2 separate regions of the Homo sapiens genome follow, and region 1 is linked to region 2. Evidence: fine-mapped expression QTL. A gene starts in region 2. The other region holds a variant in brackets. All regions are shown on one strand. Distances are from middle to middle.

Region 1 (2,915 bases), 76 kb before region 2:
GCTTCCTCTGGTATTTGGGAAAGCAGAGAGTATAAGGGTTAGGTACAGCTGGTTACAGAGGGACAACAGACTCATTGATAATCCTGAGATCTTGCACTAACCTTCACCGTCCGTTGGGTTTCGGTACTCCTAAAATTGATGTACTGCAGGGGCTATTGCATGGTTTTACTAGGCCTTGGGCTTTTACGTCCTTAACAATCCTTTGGAGTCCTTGTTGGGCCTTGAGTCTAAGGGGGTACTGCCTTTGGTAGGGAAAGGAGGTGGAATCCTTCAGTTTAACTTGAACAGGATGGGCATTCTTTGCTCATCCATAGTGTCCTTCTGTTGCCCAGACTTCAGGATTAATTCCTTCCTCAAGCAGGGAACAACAAACAGGTGTTCCTTCTCCTATGTTCAGGTGTATAATGGCCCCTGCTTTTGCTAGAATGTCTCTCCCTAACAAGGGAGTGGGGCTTTCAGGCATAATTAGAAAAGCATGTGAAAAGAGTGAAGTTCCCCAGTCACAACTTAGTTGCTGGGAGAAGTATCTAGTGACTGCCTGTCCTAGGACCCCTCGGATAGTGACAGATCTGGAGGACAGTTGTCCGGAACAGGAGAGTAAGACTGAGAAGGCCGCGCCAGTGTCCAGGAGACAGTTAACCTCCTGGCCCTCAATGGTCACACATACCCGGGGCTCTGTGAGGGTGATGGCATGGGCTGGCACTTGCCCCAGGCACCCTCAGTCTTGCTGCTGGATCTTCTGGTTAGTGGCTTCTGACTCAGAGGACCTTCATCCCCTGGGGCAGTAGGCCTTCCAGTGATTCCCTTGACATAAGGGGCATGGACAAGGGGGTAGCTTATTTCTACTTGGACAATCTTCTTTAAAGTGCCCTTGTAGATCACACTGGAAGCAAGCCCTATTAGGCATTTGATTTGCCCTTTCCAGAGCCTCCAAAGTCCGCTTGCCTGAGGGCTATGACTAAAGAAGTGGCCTTTTGTTTATCCCGTTTGTCCAATCCGCCTGCTCCTCCTGATCTCTATTATAAACAACTGAGGTTGCCAAGTTCAATAGTGTTTCTAAATTTTGCTCCAGGCCTAAGGCGGACTTTTGAAGTTTTTTTTCTAATGTGTGCAGCTGACTTAAAGGATAAACTTATCCTTTAAGATTAGTTGGCCTTCAAGAGAGTCAGGTGACAGAGAGGTATGCTTCCTCAATGTCTCCCTTAGTCTCTCCAGAAAGGCCGTAGGATTTTCTTCCTTTCCCTGTGTTATAGTGGACATCATTGAATAATTCATAGGCTTCTTCCTAGTTTTCCTTAGTCCTTCTAGCATGCAAGGTAGCAAATGTCTGTGGCACCAATCTCCATGTTCTGAATCTGTGTCCCAGTGTGGGTCTACACTGGAAACTGCCTGCTGGCCTGTGGGGAATTGTTCTCTTTCCTCTGTTGTCATCCTGTCATTGACCTGA[C/T]GGAGATACCAGAGATTGCCACACTCTTGGGCTGCAGTTTTGGTGGCACTTCTCTCATTTGGGGTTAGTGTTTGATCTAGCAGTAACATTATATGTCTCCATGTCAGATCAAAAGATTGTCCTAACCCTTGTAAAACATTAATATAGCCATCAGGGTTATCTGAGAATTTACCTAGGTCTATTTTAATTTGCTTCAACTGTGAGAGGGAAAAAGGTGCATACACTCTGACTGGGCTGAATTCTCCACAATACATCTTAGGGGTGTTTTTGCCTTGGGGGAAACGTTTCCCATCTGAAAAAAGAACATAAGGATGCCAGCACCCCAGTAATTTTCCAATGAGCATTAGTCATAGAGCATCCTCTATGGTCCTAATGCTTATTACTTTCCAGGGTGCGTAACCACCCATGGACCTCTGCTTATTGGATTAGTTAAGCTCACTGATGTGGCAGTCCTGCCCCTGTTTTCCCACCTTTCTTGACCACAAAGAAATGGGTCTGGGCTGCTGGATTCTAGTGGTCCTTTACCAGTGTGTCCAACATTGCCTTTGTGCTCAGGGGTGAGTCCTAGAGCTGGGCTGGGTTCCTGAATATTTCATAACAACCCAGCTGCCCCATCAAGATGCATTCCCATAAACAACAGTTCTTATGCAAATTCATTTCAGAGAACGTGTAGGTAACTTTTTGAGTCAGGATTGAGTAAGTACTTGATTCTGTAAGTACTTTAAGGCTTGGCTGAGTGCAAACAGCTTGCATGTTTGAGCAGAGCAATTATTAGGCAATTTTTCTAACTCTGCTTCCACAAGAATCTCCCTGTCAGTTACTGAATACCCATTGTATCCTCAATCACCTGAGAGGAACCATCTATCTTCCTGTCCTGAAGGGAGTTCCTCCTAGGTCTGGTTGGACCTTTGTATGGTAATTAAGATTTAAATCCCCTGTTAGGAAATCTGCTGGGTTAAGGGAATTATCAGTGGTTGGAGTTACATTACCTTTTTCTAACAGAATAGCCCCCATACTTTAAGATTTTTGAGTTAGTAACCTTTTTGCTTTTTTGACTTAGAATAACTCTGAACTGGTGAGGTGTGCTCACAATGAGGTTTCCTCTAAAGGTTACTTTTCTACTTTCTTCTGTTAGCAAAGCAGTTGCCGCTACAGATTGAATGCATCCATGGGTTACTGGGTTAAGGATTTTTGATAGGAAAGCTACTGGTTTTCTGTGGTCTCAGTGTTTTCAGGCTACGCCCTTGTTTACACTGACAACAAGGTAGTATTGGAGTGTTATAGGGTCACGGAGAGGACCTTCAATTATCAATTATAGGTTTTAAATTTACGCTGGCTTTTAAAGGAGTACAGCGTACTTTTTTTTTTTTTTACTATTTCTTTCTTTTTGACTCCCTCTGTCTCTCTCTCTCTCCTCAGTGTCTCTCTCTCCTCCATCTCTCTGTCTCTCCCCTCCGTCTCTATCTCC
Region 2 (2,915 bases):
AAATTTACCCTGAGAATGCATAATTAATAAGAGCTCAGAGTAACTGACAATTTTCAGGTAAATTTCCTTTCTTCTTATTAATAAATATTCACTGGTGCTAGATCAGAAGCCAATAATTAAGTAAAAGTCAAAAGGAAAATAGAATTCCATCAACTACGTTCTAATTATAAAGAAAAATCCCTTCAGGGATGGTATCTGACTCAGTGAAGCGTGCCTGTGATTTTGGTGGACGAGAACTAGAACTGAACGGTGCTTCAAAACGTATTTTTCTTTCAAAGGTCTCAAAAGCTGTATGACAAATCCGTGAAGAAACAGCATATAAGGTACCTCGACTCCGGCGGCAGCTAAAACCCATCTCACGGACTCCATCCGGCCTCTTCCGTTGGGATAGTGGAGCTTGGGCCTTGCTGCCATGATAGCTTTTCAGGCTTTCTGAAATACAAATGCAGCAGCTCGTCGCAGACCAACAGTCCCAATTTCGCGTCTTCAACCCAGTGCTCAGGGGCGAAATGAATATTCAGGATTTTGGCACGGGAAACTGTTCTTTATTTTTGTTGCTGCATTTTCCCTCACTCAAGAAAAAAAAACCACCATTTTAAAACATGGAGAAAAAAACCTTGGCTTTTATATGATTTCTATTTATGACTTCTTATCCTGGATCTTGGGAAGCTGGGGCCATTTGTTGTAAAAACATATGTGCTAGCAGTACGGGATTTCACAAATTCAGAATATTATATATTTTGACCTCGAGAATCTCAGATTTTCCAAATTCAGCTGGGGGATAGGGGGTGGCAGGCGTTGAAGAGGGTAGCGAAGGAAAATCGCACAGCCACTGGAAGCTCTTCAAGTATTCATGCTTTTACATACATCATCATATTTTATTATCACGGCAACTGGAAGGTGAACAGGCCGAGTACTACTACTGTCTGCAAAATGTGCGTCCACCGTCACGCATGCGGTGGCTGCGCCCCCCGGGTCCCGCGTGTCCACCACCCCTACAGGGAGATGAGCCCCCGGCCTTGTAAAACGAGCCGGGGGCCAGGGCTTGGCCATCTGAGATCGCACTCTCCCATGCTCGTCTTCCCCGCTCAGCCCATGCAGGGGCGTAGCGGCAGCCCAGCCAGGCCCGGGGACGATCCGAGCCCACCTTCCACCAATGCATTCAGACTCCGCAGAAGGGGTTTAAAAAAAAATACGCACACTGAGCCAAGAAGGACCCCAGCTCCAGCCAAGGGGCCCACCTCTGCCCAGACTGGATGGAGCAGGAGGACAAAGGACAAGAGGAAGAAAAGACAAGAGAAGGACTGAACTGGGGGAGTGAGGGAAGAATGCGAGAGTGAGACTCAGAGAGTAAAGGGGAGGGAAAAAAAAGAAGAGAGAAAGGGCGAGGAAGGGGGCGACCGCAGGAGGGAGACAGACCTGGAGTCCACTCGGAGGCCTGGAGCCGCACAAAGCGCCAGGTCAGCGGTCCCGGCTGGGTGAGACCAGCAGGCGGCTCTAGCGCGCGGGAGCTGGGCGAGGCTCCGGGACGACCTCACCAATGGAGACTGCAGTATTTAGCATGCCCCACCCATCTGCAAGGCATTCTGGATAGTGTCAAAACAGCCGGAAATCAAGTCCGTTTATCTCAAACTTTAGCATTTTGGGAATAAATGATATTTGCTATGCTGGTTAAATTAGATTTTAGTTAAATTTCCTGCTGAAGCTCTAGTACGATAAGCAACTTGACCTAAGTGTAAAGTTGAGACTTCCTTCAGGTTTATATAGCTTGTGCGCCGCTTGGGTACCTCGGATGTGAGGGCGATCTGGCTGCGACATCTGTCACCCCATTGATCGCCAGGGTTGATTCGGCTGATCTGGCTGGCTAGGCGGGTGTCCCCTTCCTCCCTCACCGCTCCATGTGCGTCCCTCCCGAAGCTGCGCGCTCGGTCGAAGAGGACGACCATCCCCGATAGAGGAGGACCGGTCTTCGGTCAAGGGTATACGAGTAGCTGCGCTCCCCTGCTAGAACCTCCAAACAAGCTCTCAAGGTCCATTTGTAGGAGAACGTAGGGTAGTCAAGCTTCCAAGACTCCAGACACATCCAAATGAGGCGCTGCATGTGGCAGTCTGCCTTTCTTTTGACCCATTACCCATCTAAGTTAGATGCTTTTTTAAATGTTTTTTAATTTTTAAATTTTTAATTTTTTTCATTATTTATTTTTTATTTTTGAGACGGATCTCGGCTCACTGTAACCTCCACCTCCCGGGTTCAAGCGATTCTCCTGACTCAGCCTCCCGAGTAGCTGGGATTACAGGCGCGCGCCACCATGCCCGGCTAATTTTTCTATTTTTAGTAAAGACGGGGTTTCGCCATGTTGACCAGGGTGGTCTTGAACTCCTGACGTCAGGTGATCCTCCTGCCTCGTGCTGGGATTGCAGGCGTGAGCCACCGCTCCCGGCCCTTAGATGCTTTTTAATCAGCAAGTACGCAATGCTTTCCTGACAGGAATGTCAAGTCCGTCAGGAAATCCACATAAGGGTGTTAAGCAGGCAAAGTACCACATACAGATTAAAATCAAAAGCACTGTCAACGCTTATTTAATTTATACAGTAGACCCTAACTTTTCTAATTTTGTGTATACATATATATACATGTATACATGTATACAAACATACATATTTTCTTCTTTCTTTCTTCATCTCAGTGGGACATCTTGAGATTTCTCTTCATTTTGTACATTTTAGAGACAAGTGCTCTATAGTCACGGTCTCAAGTCAGCACCTGTTTGGAAGGGGGTCTTTGGAGTTGGGGGTGGTGCTAAAAGAATAATTTGGCTGGCAAGTTAGTTAAAACATTAAAAATATATTAAAACTATCAGGGCTATATTATGGAACAATTGCAAAATTCACATGGATTTCAAAGTTTGAAATAT

The links. PIP is the estimated chance that this variant, and not a neighbour inherited with it, causes the effect.
Region 1: its variant is fine-mapped to the expression of GSTA4 in liver (GTEx, PIP above 0.99).

Annotation. Positions count from the first base shown.
Region 1 is chr6:52,917,517-52,920,431 of GRCh38, forward strand. No RefSeq gene overlaps it. Among named protein-coding and RNA genes, the nearest start is that of GSTA3, 9.3 kb to the left of the region's middle. The variant C/T (reference allele first, on the strand shown) is at 1,448.
Region 2 is chr6:52,993,830-52,996,744 of GRCh38, forward strand. It overlaps GSTA4 (glutathione S-transferase alpha 4), which reads right to left and starts at 1,455. Exons shown (of 7, transcript NM_001512.4): 1 at 1,420-1,455; 2 at 328-432. The coding sequence starts at 414. RN7SK (RNA component of 7SK nuclear ribonucleoprotein) reads left to right here and starts at 1,791; the gene lies at 1,791-2,122. RefSeq lists silencers at 1,376-1,607, 1,939-2,028 and an enhancer at 1,559-1,778.